Linked DNA regions of Homo sapiens: region 1 is linked to region 2. The links come from fine-mapping of genetic effects on gene expression. A gene starts in region 2. The other region holds a variant in brackets. All regions are shown on one strand. Distances are between the middles of the regions.

What was found. PIP is the estimated chance that this variant, and not a neighbour inherited with it, causes the effect.
Region 1: its variant is fine-mapped to the expression of LINC01801 in whole blood (TOPMed, PIP above 0.99).

The regions. Positions count from the first base shown.
Region 1 is chr19:34,814,087-34,819,465 of GRCh38, reverse strand. It overlaps LINC01801 (long intergenic non-protein coding RNA 1801), which reads left to right. Exons shown (of 6, transcript NR_033982.1): 5 at 700-879; 6 at 1,976-3,312. Among named protein-coding and RNA genes, the nearest start is that of LINC01801, 16 kb to the left of the region's middle. The variant A/G (reference allele first, on the strand shown) is at 2,710.
Region 2 is chr19:34,830,667-34,836,045 of GRCh38, reverse strand. It overlaps LINC01801 (long intergenic non-protein coding RNA 1801), which reads left to right and starts at 3,177. Exons shown (of 6, transcript NR_033982.1): 1 at 3,177-3,321; 2 at 3,510-3,716.

The DNA of each region.
Region 1 (5,379 bases), 17 kb after region 2:
TCAGTGGCTCATTTTTGCATTGGATCACTGCAAAAAAATTTCCTAAGCCTATCTGCTTCTATTCTGGCATCTATTTAATTCTTCCTTTCAGGGAGGCATAGAGTGTTTCTAAAATCTACATATATCATGTAACTTCTTTGCTTATCCTTTCACGATTCCTCATACTTTGTGGATAATGGACAAATGCCCCCTGATGGTATGTCTGTTTGTCCATGATCTGCACTTGCTGAACACAGCAGCCACATCTCCCAGCTTGGGTTTCACTCTCCAACCACATTTGATTACTTGCCTGGTGTCCCACAGGGTCATGATCTCTTTCTTCCTTGACTTTTAATTTAATTTAATTGAATTTAAAGTTCCAGGATACATGTGCAGGTTTGTTACACAGATTAGTCTTCCCTGACTTTTAGCATGCTATTTCTTTGACCCCCAAATAGCCTTTCTCTGCCTGGACACTTCTTCCTTCTTCTTTTTTTTATTATTTTTTATTTTTTCCATCTCTCTCACACCTAGTTTTATGTCCTTCTTACCTACTCCCGTATCGCCACCACTATCTTTCCAGGTGTAATATTTGGTTTATCTATCTGTCTCTCTCTGCTATACTGTAAATTGCTGGGCTGCAAGAGATAAATCTTTGAATTCTATATCACCAAGACCTAGCACTGTTTAATATAATACATTGACTCTTGAACAACACAGGTCTGAACTGCACAGATCCACTTACATGTGGATTTTCTTCCACTGCGGCCTCTCCTGAGACAGCAAGACCAACCCCTCCTTTTCATCCTCCTCCTCCTCCTCAGCCTACTCAACATGAAAATGACAAGGATGAAACCTTTATGATGATCCACTCATCCATTTTCTTTTCTCTAGCTTATTGTAAGTATGCTGTATATAATACATATAACATACAGAATGTGTTAACTGTTCATGTTATCAGTGAGGCCTCCAGTCAACAGTAGGCTACTAGTGGTTAAGTTTTGGGGAAGTCACAAGTCATGCAGACATTTTGGACTGCGTGGGGGAAGCAGCACCCCTTACCCCCACGCATTGTTCAAGGGACAACTGTAATCTGTAAGCAGCTGAAGGAAATGCTTGTACTTTATTTTTCTTTCCACCATCTTAAGATACCTTCATGGGTTGTAAAATACTTTAAAAAGATTGTATTTTCAGCACAGTACAACTCCAAGGTCAGCCAAGTCTGTGTGAAATTATAAATCTTGTGACGATATTTTTGTGGTTAGGACTCGAGATAGACCAGTTATTTTTCCAAATAGAACCTATCCTGCTATTTACCTTAAAAGATAATCATTTGTAATGTGTCAAAGCAACATGATACCAATATCTATGTAATCTATTACATCCTAACAGACTTAAATTTTTTTTAAATTACGGAGCAGTCATGCGTGAGTTCTTTCTTCCTTTTTTCCTCCAGGCCCAAAAGCCTGATTGCCAAGCCAATCATCCATAGGTGAAAGTGTGAATGTTGCTGGACGTGGTGGCTCACACCTGTTATCCCAACTCTTTGGGAGGCCAAGGCGGGAGGACCACTTGAGCCAAGTTTGAGACCAGGCTGGGCAACATGATGAGATCCCCATCTCTCCCCCACAACCCCCTGCAGCCAAAAAAAAAATTGTGAATGTGTGTGAATTACTGGCATACAACTAAATTAAACAAGCAAAAAAGACATTTAAACTCCATGTTCTAGATCCTGGGCCCTGGGCCACAGAAACTTTGCACAGTTAAGCCTGGCTCAACAATCATGGCTTATACAAGTCAGTATTTTCTCCATCATTGAGTTAGAGCAAAAACACATGAGCAGAGGAAACATGGCAGACATAGATAGCAGTGGGTGTCCTGACAGTTCCAAGACAGGAGGAAACCCCCCCAAAGCTTAGGTCTTCCAGGATAACACTGAAACTAGAGTGTAGTGTTGCACGGCTGATACTCACCCATCTCTCTCTTCTCTCCACAGGTGAACATCTTAGGCTAGTGTGTCGACTTCTGACTTGGCTCATCTGAACCCAAGTCCTTGGACACATTCACAAACACCCCAGGGTCTTGGGCTTCCAGTTTGTGCTAGAAGGACAAAGGGCAGGTGAAGCTTGTTTGCCGTAACTAGAAGGAGCAGAAACTGCTCCCAGCAGAACAAGATCAAATCATGGGGAACAGTGGTCACCTGCCATTTCTAGAGGAAGCTTTTGCTTTTGGTCACTGAGGACCCTAAGTCTTACATGAGAAGAAAACAAATAGGGTGATGCTGCATGCTTCTGTCCCCAAAGAATCCCTGTGCAGGTGCCGAGGGTGCCCCAAAGACGAGGCTGTGCTTGCCGTGCCCACCACAGAAGCACATTTGACCTGATCAAAAGCAGGTGGAAAAGGTCCTGAAGCACAGATATTTTCTCAGTGATGTTGTTTTCTCCAAAATGAAAGAGGGAAGGTACCCTGGCTTAGGCCCCTGGTGTTCTGATTGAAGGTGAGAATGGAAGTATCTTCTTCAACATGTTCTCCCATCTGACTGCAACAAGTGTGCTCCAGCCACCAGTGTCCCAGTTGCTCTGAATGATGGTGAGAAGGGTACCCAAACACTTGAATGGTACTGTACCCTCTACTTGCCATCTGAATCCTCACTTGTGGAACCCAGGCACTCTGGCTGTATTCGCGAGTAAGCATAGGTGTGGGACTGTGTCCTGCCATTGCACCATCTTT[A/G]ATCTGGACTTGTGGACCTCAGGCTCTCTGACTATTCATGGACAGAAGTTTCTGCAGGCACAGGTGGGGTGCTGTTTCCTCCCATTGTACACCTGAATTCAGGACTTGTGGACCCCAGGTGTTCTGGCTGTGTTCATGAACAGAAGTGTCCCCCCCAAACAAACCCATATATGGTGCCATCTCCTCCCATTACAGGTATGGTGCCATCTCCTCCCATTGCAGGCATTGCACTGCCTATACTCTGGACTTATGGCCCTCACATGCTCTGATTGTATTCATAAACAGTAGTTTCTTCAGTCACAGATATGGCACCAGCCCCTCCAACAGAAACAGATGTGCTCAAGCTGAGTGGTCCAAAGGCGTTTGACAGAAGTCATGAACAGAAGTATCTTGGGGCACATGTTTCTTCTCTGTTGTGCAGGCTTCTCCAGCAGTAACAGGTTTGCCCAGGCCATATGGGCCCCAAGCGCTCTGACCAGACACAAGAAGAGAAGACTTGCAGTCACAGGTAGTGTGTTGTCCCCTGCTACTGCAACATAGGTGCTTGGAAAGGTGCAACAGGGTGCTCTGCTTGTGGTGGAAACATAAAGGCCTCCAAGCATAGATGTGCTGCTTTCTCCTTCCCTTTGAGGGATGCAGATGTGCTCTGGCCAGCTGCATTCCAGGTGGTCTGTCTGCAAGACAGAAGTGTCCCAAGCACTGGTATGTGCGGGCTCCTCCAACCACAACAGACGTGCTTTGGCCAGATGGTTTCCAGGTGTTATGAACACAAGAAGGAACAGAGGTGCCTTCTGGAACATGTTTCTTCTCAGTGATGTTCTAAGAGGTGTGCTTTGGCAGGACAGGCCCCAGCTGCTCTGACTGTAGGCAGGGAGGAAAGTGTTTCCCAGGAGTTTTTGCTTTCAGTAGTACTGCCCTCTCCAACTGTACCAGAGGTGCTGTAGGCTTGCAGGAACCCCGGTGCTCATGTGTAAGCCTCCCCAACATAAACTAAGGTGCTGCATGCCCCTCTAGGCCCTGTTCTAAAGCTGAGTGCTTCAGATGTGGAGCTGGGTCTGGGGCAGACACACTGGTCCTAGAGCTGTCATTATCCAAAGAAGCCCCAGAGTCCATGAATGGAAATGGGTCGAGAGAGGGGTTAGCAAAAGGTGAACTGTGCCTGATGCTGAGCATCCAGTGATGGCTCCAGAGCTAGAAGTAGTGGCTGTGCAAATGGGAAAAGGACCCGAGGTGCCACCCAAGGCTGAGTGGGTGCTAGCAGAGATATCAAAGATGGATATGGAGGTAACACGTACGCAAAATCTGATGGCATTATGCTCCCATTGGGTGTCTGGGCTGCAGTAAAGGCTCAGTTTAGAGCTTGTATTGAGATTTTACGTTTCTCAAAGGGTAAATGCTATCAAATACATTGGGGGATCCTGCCAGGGGGAGGCTAGAAAGAGGACATGGTAACCATATTGATTTCATCAGAGTTAAAGGCAGACTTGGCTGCCCAGTTGGTCAAGGTCCTAGCTACTAGAAAACAGACAATTGCTGAAGTAGTGATAAGTATGATGGTGCAGACAGGTATCCTAGAAGACTGACTCTTTGCTGCTGCCCTTTAGGAGCTCCAAATGTGACTGAGAGGTGGCTTCTGGGCTAAAGGAAAGGTTCAAAGTGGGGTAGGGCTGTTTACCATAAACATAGGTGGGTTAGTGGGGACTGCCTTTTGCAGGGGGCTGTCCACTCCACACTGCAATGAGCCAGTCAAATGGGAGTTCCAAGACCAGAGGAAACCTAGCCCAGAGCTTGAGTCTTCCAGGCTAACCCTGGGTCCTGGGGGGACCAGGAGATGAGACCCAGGGAATAGTAGTGTCCATGTCGGTCATCTCAAAGGTTCAAAGCAGGCTGGGAGGTCAAGTCTGCAGATGGGCTGACTGGGCAGTGGAAGTGATAAGGTTGGCCAGTTAATGATGGGTTGATATATTCATCTGTTTTCACACTGCTATGAAGAACTATGTGGGGCTGGGTAATTTATAAACAAAAGAGGTTTAATTAACTCACAGTTCCACATGGCTGGGAGGCCACAGGAAACTTACAATCATGGCAGAAGGCAAAGGGGAAGCAAGGCATGTCGTACTTGGTGGCAGGAGAGAGTGCAGAGGAAACTGCCACTTATAAACCGTCAGATCTCATGAGAATTCCCTCACTATCATGAGAACAGCATGGGGGAGACCACCCCTACAATCCAGTCACCTCCCACCAAGTCCCTCCCTCCACACATGGGAATTACAATTCAGATTACAATTCAAAATGAGATTTGGGTGGGGACATAGAGCCAAACCATATCAGTTAGTCAGTGAAGACTGAGGTATCTGTAGAAGTGAGGGAGGAGCACAGTGGTCTGGATGAACCAGTGGGGTGATAGTCAGGGGACTGGCATTCAGTGAGGCTGGGGGAGAAGCTTCCTAAAAGCATTGCCCTTGAAAAGCAGGGCATACCTATCTGATACTGAGGATGTAGAATGCAGTTTGGAGATGCTTCCTAGCTACCTAATCTTCCAAGGCAAACCATGCACTCTTCATCCTGATATTTGTGATGCCTCCCTGGGCTACATGACAGAGGGTGCACTGCAAAGGATGTGAAGGAAAGTCACCACAGGGCAAAGGTGGAAACCCAGGGGCCTTTCCC
Region 2 (5,379 bases):
TTTCTCCTCCTGGCCTTCCAATTCTGTTTTAGTTGGGTATAACAAGAATGGCTCAATTTATATAATCAACTTTCACACTTGCCAGCCATAGGAAGCCAGGGCATCCTACCCATAAGTGACTCTCTCTCCAAGGGCTGAGCTGTTCTCTTCCTGTGCCGACAAACTGCTCCAGGGAGAGGGGATCTGGCTGATCCAACATGGGTCAAAGTCCCACAGTCCAGATATATGTGTCTCAGAAGGTGGGGGGTTCTCATGGTCCATGGACTTTCCTTCAGATAATGTTGGAATTGCTCCGAGAAGGGCTAGTGATTTTTACCCCTATGTTCACCATGCCTTTTCTGCACACAAGAGTGCTTGTGTCTTTGCTCTCTTCTTGCACTGCTCCTCCCGGCTGACCATCTTCCCATTCTCTGCCGTGCCCCTACCTTAACATTGTTTTCTAAATGAACCTTTTTCATGTTTAAAAACTGTTATAACAGTTAGAAAGAAAATCTGGCCTTCTCTGCCATTATTATGGCCAATTGCATCTACGTAGCAAAATCTGTTTATAAAACAATGATTTTAGAATGATATTCTTTCTACCTTTGCTTCGTTTTTTTCAAATCAAGTTTTGGAGGTAAAATTCAGCAATTTCAGCGGCTGCTGAGAAAAAAATTCAGAGTCAGGACCTGCCAATGAAGAGGGTCCCCAAAAAATACTCAGGTTTTCATGTAAAACGTCTGAAAGCCAGTATCCCAGAAATAAGGATAACAGGAGAGAGCCAGCCTTCAAAAAGAGTGAAGCATGGCTCTGACTTACATTAATCTCAGAATAAAGTGTGCTTTCCCATCCTAGCTGCCTTCTACATCCAAAGGTAAATCCCTTCAGAGGATTTATAGTAGCATCAATAAACATGAAATAAATCTACAAAAGACATGCAAATCGACAGGAGAATTCCAGAGCTAAATGTGAAAAGTTAAGCAATAAACCTCATAGTAGGCATCACTGAAAATTTCCATGATATTGGAAGTGATGCTGGGCAGGCAAGCCCAAATTGGGGCTTAGCTTGGGAGGGTTCTTTGCTTCACCCAGCAAAGGATTCAAGGGTGAGCTGGTGGTGGAAGAAGACAGCTCTATTGAAGAGGCAGTGTTACAGCTCTGTGACTGCTCCTGCAGAGCACGGTTACTCTATCGGCAGGGCGCAGAGAGCAGCAGCTCAGGGCAGTTCTGCAGTCATATTTACATCTACTTTTAATTGCATGCAGATTAAGGGGTGGTTTATGCTGAAATTTCTAGGAAAAGGGTAGTAACTTCTGGGTCATTGGGTCATTGCCATGGAAAGGAGCAGTAATTCCTGCATGTTGCCATGACAAATGTAAACTGACATAGCACACTGGTGGGTGTGTCTGATGGAAAGCTGCTTCCACCCTGACCCTGTTTTAGCTAGTCCTCAATTTGCTCCAGTGTCCAAGCCCCGGCTCTGGAGTCGAGTCCTGCGTCCTACCTCAGAAGTAGTCGAAAACATACACATGAATGTTCACAGCAGCATTATTTCTTTCTTTTTTTTTTTTAAAGAGAGATGGGGGTCTCACTATGTTGGCCAGGTTGGTCTTGAACTCTTGGTCTCAAGCAATCCTCCCTCCTCAGTCTCCCAAACTGCTAGGATTACAGGCATGAGCCACTACACCTAGCCACAGTAGCATTATTATTTCTAATAGCCAAACATCCATCAATAATAGAATGGGTAAATTATATTTGTTCAATGGAACATCACACAGCAATATAAAAGAATAAAGTGCTGCTAAAAGCAACAACATGGATGAATTTTATGAAGTGTTGAATGAAAAGACACAGCCACAAACAGGACACATGGTAGGGTTCCATTTATATAAAGTTTTTAAATAGGCAAAACTAATCTATAATGTTAAAAATTTGGGAGGGGCATAGTGACTAGGAATGAGCATGAGGTTGATTCTGAGGTGCCTGTGTTTTGCTTCTTGATCTAGATTACATAGGTTTGTTCATTCTGCAAAAATGTATTGAGGAATAGACAGATGATTTGTACACTTCTGTGTATGAATGTTATATTGTAAAGTTTCTTGAAGAATACCTGTTTACAAGAGTTAGAGAACATGGAAGCTCTTTCTCTGAGATAAAACATCTAAAAAGACAAAAATTAGCCGGGCGTGGTGGTGGGTGCCTGTAATCCCAGCTACTCGGGAGGCTGAGGCAGGAGAATGTCTTGAACCCGGGAGACAGAGGTTCTAGTGAACCAAGATCACACCACTGCACTCCAGCCTGGATGACAGAGGAAGACTCTGAGACTCCGTCACAAAAAAGAAAAAACAAACAAACAAACAAACAAAAAAGCCCTAAGTCATATCATGCCAGTCTCAGCAGTTTGAAACCCTCCATGGTTCCCATCTCTCAGTAAAAGGCAACGTTCTTATGACATCCTTCAAGGCCCCATGTAGTCTTTTGGTCCCTCTCCATCTCTGTCCTCCTGTCATCCACGTCTCCCACGTGCTGATTGGGTCTGGTAGGGTGACTGGGTGGCAAAGACCTCACAGAGGTGCCTTTCTGCTCAGGTGGCAAACAGGAGAGTCTATCTGGGCCCTGCAGGATGGATCCTTCCTGAGTCACTGAATATATTGGAGGTGCAGACAGCGCCAGAGAAAGGCATTGAGCCTGCCAGATCAGACACCGCCTCTTAGGGTCGACGGAACACCCAGGAGCAAAGACCAGAAATTGTGGGAGAAAGGCCTGGAAGGGGGCCGGGGAGAGGCACAGAGACAGCGAGGTGATGCAGGCTTGGTGGGAGCGGGTATGGTAGGCAATGGGGGACAGAGGGGCAGGGCACAGACAAAGCTTGCTGAAGATATGAAGAGCAATTGTGAGCCGGCGAATCCTTGGAGTAGAGGAGAAAATTGAGGTCTCCTGTTCAGCCCGATGCAGGTGAGATGCTGTTGGAACACGTGACAGAGAAAGGGTGTGTGAGCCCAGGGCTTGTGCACTAAGCGCACAGGAGCGAAGGGGGCGAGAAGAAAAAACGACGCCCAGCAAAGAGCGTCAAGGCCCAACCGCCTGCCCCCAACCGGTCTCTAGCGCCTCGTGACCTTCTGCACTCCGTTGCAGGCGTTTGGCACCAGATGGTCCCACGCGCTCTGTTCGACGGTTGGGGGCCGCGGACGCTGGTTGTCAGCAGCACTGGGTCAGCCGGTGAACGGGTGTGCAGCGTCCTCAGCGCCGCAGCAGTCAGCACCTGTGGGTGCTCTAGCTCTTTCCCTCGGGGTCACCGGAGGCAGAGCCTCCCCTACGCGGAGTAGAGGAGCAGCTCACATGGTGCGGGGGTGGGGATCGGGCTTCCTGGAAGGCTGGAAATGGGAGTTGGGATAAGGGGTTGGCGAGGGCGGGGCGGCACCGTCTACCGGGGTGACCGGTGTGCCCTGGCAGCCAGGGAGTCTGCTGCAGGGCAGGTATTAAGATTCGGAGAGACATAGGACAAAGAACCCTCGGCCTCTTCTTTTCAGGCAGCCGCCACAGAGGACACCAGATCATGCCAACACCCCCACAACTCCTGCCCGCCTGCAGGCAGCTCTGGGCTCAGGACACCGCCTGCAAGAACCTTTATAGCGCAGCTCTCCAAACCTTGGAGGCGAGGACATTCTATGTGCCCGCCCTGGAAAGGCCTGAACCTATAACATCTGGGCTGTGATGGTTTCTGAGGTGGACACCAGGTATTCTAAACTGCCCACATGCTTCACCCCAAAACTTCCCTTTCTAACAGGCAGTGTATTTTCACTTCTTTTAAAATATTTGGTAAAACAGCATTTAAGCCTTAGAAAGTTCCCCATCTCACCCCAGCCAGGGTTTGAACCCATGCTGTCTGATTCCACAGATCATGCATTTAACCACCAGACTTTGGTGTAGCCTCACCGTGTGTGCATAATGGATTACACTTGTTTATAATACTTGGGGTGCTTAGCACCATGTCAGAGCTGTAATGAGTACTTGCACTGTTAGGAGGTCTAACATGGTTCAATTTATAAGTGGACCATTGGCCACACCGGGTCTGGCTCAGTCTCCTGGGAGGATGTAGGCAGGGACCACCAATTATCAGCATATCTCCATGATGAATTTCTCCAGACAGCGTATCACTCTGTCACACAGGCTGGAGTCACAGCTCACTGCAACCTCGAACTCCTGGGCTCAAGAGATCCTCCCACCTCAGCTTCCCAAGTAGCTGAGACTGCAGGCATGCGCCACCACGCCTGATAATTTCTCTTCTAATTGAGCTTTGCAGAAAGCCACACAGCTGTCTGAGAGCTATTTTCTCCCAGGTATAGGGACAGGAAATGGCACCTCAGACTTCTGCAGATTCCACCCTGGCTTAAAAGCCCATGCCCCCAAGGACACCAATCTTTCTTACAATAACATAGACTATCTTTCAGGGTCCTGGCCAAGATGGACAACTTGCCAATATTAACTTTTCCAGGCCACAGGGATGATATATATCTCCATAGATTTAGGTCTTGAGTATTTTCTCCTAGAAATATTTCGCAGCAAGGGTCAGCACTGCAGCCTATGGGCCAACAAATTTAGCCTGTAGCCTACATGTAAGGCCAGTGAGTGAAGGATCCTATTAACAATTTTAAAGAGTTGCAGCAGAATACACAGAAACACAAAGAGTCTGTGTCACAGACAACGTGACCCACAAAGGCTATGCTACTTATTAGGCTGGTGCAAAAGTAATTGTGGTTTTTGCCATTACTTTCAAACCGCAATTACTTTTGTACCAACCTCATACTATCTGGCTTTTTAAGAGAAAATTTGCAACTGTTTTGCAGTTGTCTGTGCATAGATCTTCCACAGCTTTTGCTAATTTATTTCTAAGTATTCTATGGGGTTTGTAAATGCTATTGTAAATGGAATCTTTTAAATTTTAATTTTTGATAGTTCATTGGTAGAATATAGGTAATACATATAATACAGTCCAGTGTCGCTTTAACAATGGGAATACCTTCTGAGAAATGCATCATTAGGTGATTTTCGTCATTGTGCAAACATCATAGACTGTACCTACACAAACCTAGATGGTATAATTGACTATACTCCTAGGCCATATGGTATAGCCTGTAGCTACAAACCTGTACGGCATATACTGAATTTGAGGCAATTGTAACACAACGTTAAGTCTTTGTGTATCTAAATATATCTAAACACAGAAAAGAAACAGTAACAATGTCATATTATCTTATGGGAACACTGTCGTATATGCAGTTCATTGTTGACCAAAACCTTGTTATGAGGTGCATGACTGTGTATGTACATAAATGTATATATGCATACATATTGAGTTTGTATATTGAACCTCACTGAAATCGCTTTTGATTTCAGGTA